2 linked regions of the Homo sapiens genome follow. The protein of the gene in region 2 interacts with the protein of the main gene of each other region in a biochemical or structural test. Each region holds a gene or a part of one and is shown on either strand. Other genes may lie near its edges.

Region 1 (3,655 bases), on a different chromosome or scaffold from region 2:
TAATATAGAAAAGATAATGCGGAAGAGTGAGAAATGTGTTTAATAAAATAAACCATGAGAAGTACAGGTTTGCTGCATATTTATGATATCAAACCCTAAAATAAAAATGTATCATTTAAATACAATATTTCTTTTAAATATCATTAAAATATTTCTAAGCTTCAGAAATACAGCCTTGGTTTTTATTTCAATGTTTCCTGCCATGTACATCTGTGCAAATCTCATTTGAAAGATAAGTAGGAGAAAATTAATAAATTAGGACATGTTTTTGTATTATAGGCAGGGGATAAAAAAGTTATATTGAGGTCTAAAACCCATTTAATAAAATTTGTTTTTCTTTCCCATTTAATAACATTTCTGAATAAAAACTATTTTTAAATGTATAGAAAAGGCTGGGCATGGTGGCTTATGCCTGTAATCCCAGTGCTTTGGGAGGCTGAGGGAGGAGGATCATTGAAGATCAGGAGCTGGAGACAACTCTGGGCAACATAGCAAGACCTGTCTCCGTTAAAAAATGTAAAAATTATCCGGGGCCGGGCGCAGTGGCTCACACCTGTAATCCCAGCACTTCGGGAGGCTGAGGCGGGTGGATCACCTGAGGTCAGGAGTTCGAGACCAGCCTGGCCAAAATGGTGAAGCCCTGTCCCTACTAAAAATACAAAAAAATTAGCTGGGCATGGTGGTGCGTGCCTGTAATCCCAGCTACTAAGGAGGCTGAGGCAAGAGAATCACTTGACCCTGGGAGATGGAGGTTGCAGTGAGTCGAGATCGCACCACTGCACTCCAGCTTGGGCAACAAGAGCGAAAACTCCATCTCAAAAAAAAAAAAAAAATTATCTGGTTGTGGTGGCACATATATGTCCCAGCTACTCGGGGGGCTGAGGTGGGAGGATCACTTGAGTGCAGAAGCGCAAGGCTGCAGTCAACTAAGATCACACCACCACACTCCAGCCTGAGTGACAGAAAGAGGCCCTAACTCTTAAAAAAAAAAAAAAAAAGGACGAAAGAAACCTCTTGATGAACAGTACATGTAGCATATTGTCACAAAAATTACAAAATAGTGGAATATTAGAAATCATGCTTTTTAAGAGCCAGTGTTCTGAAGTTCAACTGCCTGGTTTGAATCCCAGTTCAATCAGCCTACTAGTTTGGTCCAAGTTCCCTTGAACACATCACTTGGCCTCTTTCCTCAATTTAAAAAAAGAGTACCAAGAGGACCTACTTTATAAGGTTGTTTGTAAGAATAAAATAAAATAACACAATAAAATAATATTTGCAGTGCTCTGCTTGGCTCCTGGTGGGGACTCAACATGCGCTAGCTATTATTTTCATTTTATTTCATGATATAAGCATTTACTGTTTATGCGTAAGGTACACTTAAGCCAGAACTAGAAAATCAATTTCCTGAAGATTCCTAAAACCACCAGAAAAAAAGTAAAGCCCAGCTGACCAGCTATTTCAGTAATATACTTCTTAAAAATTCTATAAAATTTGACCTGAAGTCTAAAATAAAATTACCAGCCTCATTGATAGCAATACACACACACGTACGTGAGGCTTCCTAAAGAGGGATGTAGATACATTCTTAGGTAAGACAAAATATTTAATATATTAATTCTGATTTGGTATCCCTGGGGTTTTCCCAATCCAAAGAAATAAGCCTAGGGAAACTATAAAAAGCAACAGCCCATAGTTTAAAAACAACACCAACAAGCAAACTGATCTGTTAATTCCAAAGCATTCATCTGCAAGACTGACCAGCCACATTTGGGTAAAGGTGCCGTGCTCCTACAGCATTTTTCAAAAACCTTGCATCGTATACAGTTTCTTTATAAAGGTTTATTAGGAGGAGCTTGTTAAGACAGTAGTTAATACAGCAAATTTAAAAGACCCAGAAACTAGCATCTGGCAAATATCATTTTGAGTGGGCAACAATCAAGGCAAGGTTTTAATTTTCTATTCGCACACCGCATCATTCTTTCCTCTCCGTCTGACACCTTTCACGTTTCCTCTACTTGACCTCAGTTTCATGATGTACAGCAAACGATGAAGTTTATAGTTCTAAATTTGATGCCTTGAACTGTTTCGAGACAAGACACTGCAACACTAGCAAACTAATTAAATGCATATTTTGCGTATGTGGCATATGACACATTTAATCTTGAATGATGTCATCAGTTACCATTTATCAGTATGTCTTACTTTCAAAAGTCATATAGGAAATTCATGTCTCTTGGTTGAGAATATTAATTTATATACACTTCCTGTGAGCTGGAAACAGACTGAGAAGAGTACTTACTTTTGCTCAACAAAGAGAGGATCAAAGAATTCCGTTGTGATTTTGTTTGCATATAGGGAACATCCAGTCATTGAGCACAGCCCTAACAAATATTAGAGGGAAAGCACTATGGTTAGTGTGATTTCATTAACATCATCAAGTACCTTGTTTGGAAGAAAGTTACTATTTACCTGACAGTATGAATACAATCCCAGCCAAACAAGCAATTTTAGCTTTGGCTTTATCGGAGCCTCCGACTTTGGTACACTTCATTCCAAAGAGCGCAAATATGGAACCAAAGAAGCCCAGGCTGACAGCAGCGATCATAAGTCCTCTACATGCCTGTATATAACCTGCAATTAGAGTAGGTCATTTACGTTACATAAAGCATGTGGCTGTCCAGGGAGAAATCCTCATTTTACGTTGTCATTCTGGATGTTTGTTTTCCAAAAAGATAACTGTGATGGTGAAAACATGTGGCAAGACAAGCAAGAAAGGAAAGCAAGTTAATCTACAGGGAGTGCCTATTCTAGGTCACACACTGTGAAGTGCGGTTTATGGGGAATCCTCAGGATAGATCTGAGTGTTATTTCCATATTCACCAGTGAGGAAACTGAGGCACACAAAGGTTATGTGACTTACCAGAGGTGAGTTAGAAAGTGGCAGACATGGATTCCATCCCAAATCAGACTACGAATTCCATATAGTGAAATTCCACAGTGAAAGGTGCCTTTCACTGTGAAAAAACATCATCTGCCACCATCACAACTCTGTAGCTCCTCCGCTCATTGGACTTTAAAAGGGTGTTTTAATGGTTTTGACATTATCAAATGATAAGATTTATAACTGGGTGGCAGAAAGAGATCCAAAGGGTCAAACCTTCCAATATTAGTGGACGCTTATTAATAGCAGACTAACTGGAATATCATCATGAACCATGGGGGGTCTAAGGGAATACTTTAGTGAAGTACTATTGTTTTCAGGGTGTATATAATAAAACTGGGTTTTAAAAAGCACTATTTTGTAGAAGAGTAATTTATAGTGATTAAGTCAACTGTTCTTTTATAAATGAATGCCTTTAAAGTACCCTAACGAGTATGTTCTGTCAGTTCGTTTGTTCATCCTTCCTGTGCTATTCATGTTCTTAGTCATGTATTTTTATTTGCACAGCCAGGGTACACGGTAAACTTCAGTGTGGCTTTTGTCCAGGTTTTTACATTAACAGGGTTTAAACTAATAAGCTTTTACCACATAAGCCATTTTCATTTCAGCCTGAAACAATGCCATATTTCGATCTAAAATAGTGATAGTAGCACATACCGGGTGTAAGTAAGTATCTGCTAAGCAAATAAACATATATACCTACATCAGGTTTAC
Region 2 (3,655 bases):
ATACTATTATATTACCGTTAACACCCCTACTGACAAGGTTGCCATTAAACAGGAATTTCATTTATGAATACAGGGAATATTTGATGAGCTGGACTTCCTACTTTAAGTTCAAACACACATGTATAAACAACCACTTTATTTTTTAAAAAGTTATAATCAAGGCAAAACTTACTTAAACCAGTAAGCCTTATCAAATTAAGATATAAATCATAACAAATGTGTTAAATCTTTTCTCACATATATTGCAACAATGTCACATATCATAAATGGTAATGCCTCAATAAACTACTCAAGTGATAAAAAACAGGCTGTGTTTCATACACAAAGATGATACCAATGACCCATCACTAAAGGAACAAGGTGAATGTTGTTTTTCTGCCTGAATACAAAAGTATATTTTCCCACAATACCCTGTGACTATAAAACAGCTGACTAGGTATATAAATACGAATTATGACTATAAAACAAATAGTAGCTACCTCCACAATTATCAAATCCATAACCTTGGCTTTAGTCTGAGGTTCAAAAGTGTTAAACTCATTGTCTAAAACTATAACTTAAGATTACTGTCCCTTTTCAAAGGTATTCCTCCCCTAGGTCTAAGACAACATTTTAGGGACACTCAATAAAACGAAAGATTCTAACTCAATTTCTTTGGCATCATTTAAGGCCAAAGTTTCTTCTTTCCAACAAAAAAATGTAAAAGATGTACCCATATTATTTGATAAAATAGCATAAAAGATCTATTGATGTAGCCTACCTGATCAGCTACTCCTCCAGGCAGAATGGTTTTTACTATCACACCAGTTGCTTTTCCTCCTATGATGCCAAATCCCAAACCAGATCCATCATTCACCAATTCAATCGTTTCCATGTGTTGCCAGTGAACCTACAAACAAAGCTCATATATGAATTTGTAGAAATTTACAAAGCACTACCATTTTACATTACAGTAGAAATTTTTGCGATTATTTTGTTAATATTAAATAATTAAATTCAGACATAATAATGAGTCCTAACAATGTCCCTTTCATTTGGTATACTTCCCTTTCAACAGAATGTAAGTGCCATTGACAGAATCATTCTTGAAATTATCAATATATCATCATAATGATTTCACTTCAACAGTTAAAGACAGGCATTGATTTGCAAGATCTTTTGTAGAACTTCTTTAAAAAAAAAGAAAAAGTTCAAAGAAAAAAAAAGGTCACATGTTAAGAATGTCTTCTGCATAATCCTGCCTTGAGGCAGGATTCCAAATTAGATGACTTCTTAAAAGTTACTGACAGCTAACTCTAACAATATAATTGTATAATTTTTAAAGCAAAATCAAGCTTGTATCTGTCTACAGATAAAGTCAATTTTGTTAAAGGACTACATTTTTCATTTTTAAGGAATGCTGTCAAAGGACAAAACTACACAAAGAAAAGTAATTGTTGTTTTAGAACTTAGAAGCTTTATCATGCTTAAAGAACAAATATTCCAGGCTGGGGAAAAATAAAAGAATAGTCAGACAAAAACTCAAGAAGTGCAAAGACCCTACACAAATTAGAAACTTGGAGATAACCAAAAACAACTTGAAAAATACGTTCTGTTCCTTTTGAAAATTTTAGGTACTCACCGGATTAGAGTGAGCTGAAATTGTGCTGGCTGCAGATGGAGAACGGGAAACTATGGGGCTGACAAGCTGAGGCAATGAGCCTCTGGCAATAACTAGCTGGACAGTATCTTTGGCTTTCTGCAGGATGCTGATAGCCTGCTGATGTGTAATTGTCTGATCAAGAGCCTGTCCATTGATAGCAAGAATTTGATCAGTTTCTTTCAATCTTCCATCTCTATCAAGGATGCAAAAGGGGATAAAAGACAATCTGAGAGTTCTCAAGGAAATGACAGCTTCTTTGGCATGTATGTTCAAGTCATTTTTAATCCTATTTTTAATTCCCACACTCTAAGCTTTTTCCTGCAGTTCTACTTTAAAAAAAATACACGCCTTGGCTGCAGGTCATCAACTCTCGTAAGGTTATTTCACTGCTACTCCTACTGAACCCCTCCCATATAAAAGTACTCTTTATTTCAGCTACCTACTCAGCCTACATTACATCTTGGATATTCTCATCTTCTAAAAATGAAAGTGGATATATCTATACAGTTGGCCTTGTGTATCCATGGGTTCCACATCCATAGATTAGATCCCCAACTGGGGATCACATCCATAGATTAGATCCCCAACTGGGGATCACATCCATAGATTAGATCCCCAACTGGGGATCACATCCATAGATTAGATCCCCAACTGGGGATCACATCCATAGATTAGATCCCCAACTGGGGATCAAATATACTCAAAAAAAATAATGCCACAACAATAAAAAAATCACACAAATTTTAAAAATACAATATGACTACTAATGTTTACATAGGATTTGCACTGTGTTAGGCATTATAAGTTAAAGATGATTTAAAATATATGGGAGAATGTGCACAGGCTATATACAAATACTATACCACTTTATATAAGGGACTTGAGCACCTGCAGATTTTAGTACCTGCAGGAGTCCTGGAACCAATTCCCCATGGATACTGAGGGGCAACTATATTAAATTATTGCTCTGGGTACATAAAAAAAATGCAGCTCGAATTATTATGGGTCATTTCTAGCATGGTAATTTTAAAAATCTAATCAAAAAGAGCCCATTTAATTAACAATGAAAATAATGTTATCCTCAAATTTTTCTTTCCTTACCAAAACTTAAGTTATGACTATATCTAAAAGCTACTCTCATTTCAAAGAACCTGCTATTTTATCACAACAATGTTAATGACTTCTAAAAACTGGTTAATAACAGATTATGTTCAATTTTTTGTTGCCATTCATTATTATTTTTCTAAATTCCTGCATAGTAACCAAAACCTTCAGAATGTGGGATCAAAAACAAAGAAGACGCCGCGACCATCTCACCTATGGGCCACACTGCCCTCTTGTATCTCTTGAACAAATATTCCCAGCTCTCCTCTGTTTTCACTTCTTAGTCCCACAACACTAAACCCAAGGCCTCCAGATGGAGGTTTGAGGAGCTCAAAAACTTCTACATGGCGACCCTGTTTAGGAAACAAAGCAAGAAATAAAACTAAAAGCCAGGCCATGCATGGTGGTTCACGCCTGTAATCCCAGCACTTTGGGAGGCCAAGGTGGGAGGATCACTTGAAGCCAGGAGTTAGGGACCAGACTGGGCTACATAATGTGACCCCATCTCTATAAAAAATAAAATAAAACTTAGTAAGTGTGGTGGCACACATCTATAGTCCCAGATACTCAGGAGACTGAGGCAGGAGAATCCCTTGAGCCCAGGAATTTGGGACTGTAGTGAGCTATGATCACAACACTGCACTCCAGTGTGGGTGACAGAGCAAGGCATGTCTCAAAAAAAAACTTAAAAGCCAATTACTGCAGTAACAGTCATCTTATCAGAATCATTTCTTTGTTAAAAAAAAAAGAAATTGAATAACATTTTTCCAAGGTAATTGTTAGCACTTTATCCTGAAGAATATTTCTATAATACAACATATAATACTCAAATTTAAATGATGATAAAACTGTAATAGAAAACGTCTGAACCATCTAAACTCCCACAAAACTGACTTTTTGTTCCAATGT

The links.
Region 1: the proteins of MPDZ (region 2) and CLDN10 interact in a test that uses a peptide from one of them, tested with the Homo sapiens proteins (one large-scale study listed by IntAct).

The regions. Positions count from the first base shown.
Region 1 is NC_000013.11:95,559,108-95,562,762, reverse strand, and holds part of CLDN10 (claudin-10), read right to left. Parts: intron 2,632-3,655; coding exon 2,470-2,631; intron 2,382-2,469; coding exon 2,300-2,381; intron 1-2,299. UniProt on the Homo sapiens protein: Forms paracellular channels: polymerizes in tight junction strands with cation- and anion-selective channels through the strands, conveying epithelial permeability in a process known as paracellular tight junction permeability.
Region 2 is NC_000009.12:13,220,612-13,224,266, forward strand, and holds part of MPDZ (multiple PDZ domain protein), read right to left. Parts: intron 3,100-3,655; coding exon 2,960-3,099; intron 1,836-2,959; coding exon 1,622-1,835; intron 890-1,621; coding exon 761-889; intron 1-760. UniProt on the Homo sapiens protein: Member of the NMDAR signaling complex that may play a role in control of AMPAR potentiation and synaptic plasticity in excitatory synapses. Promotes clustering of HT2RC at the cell surface.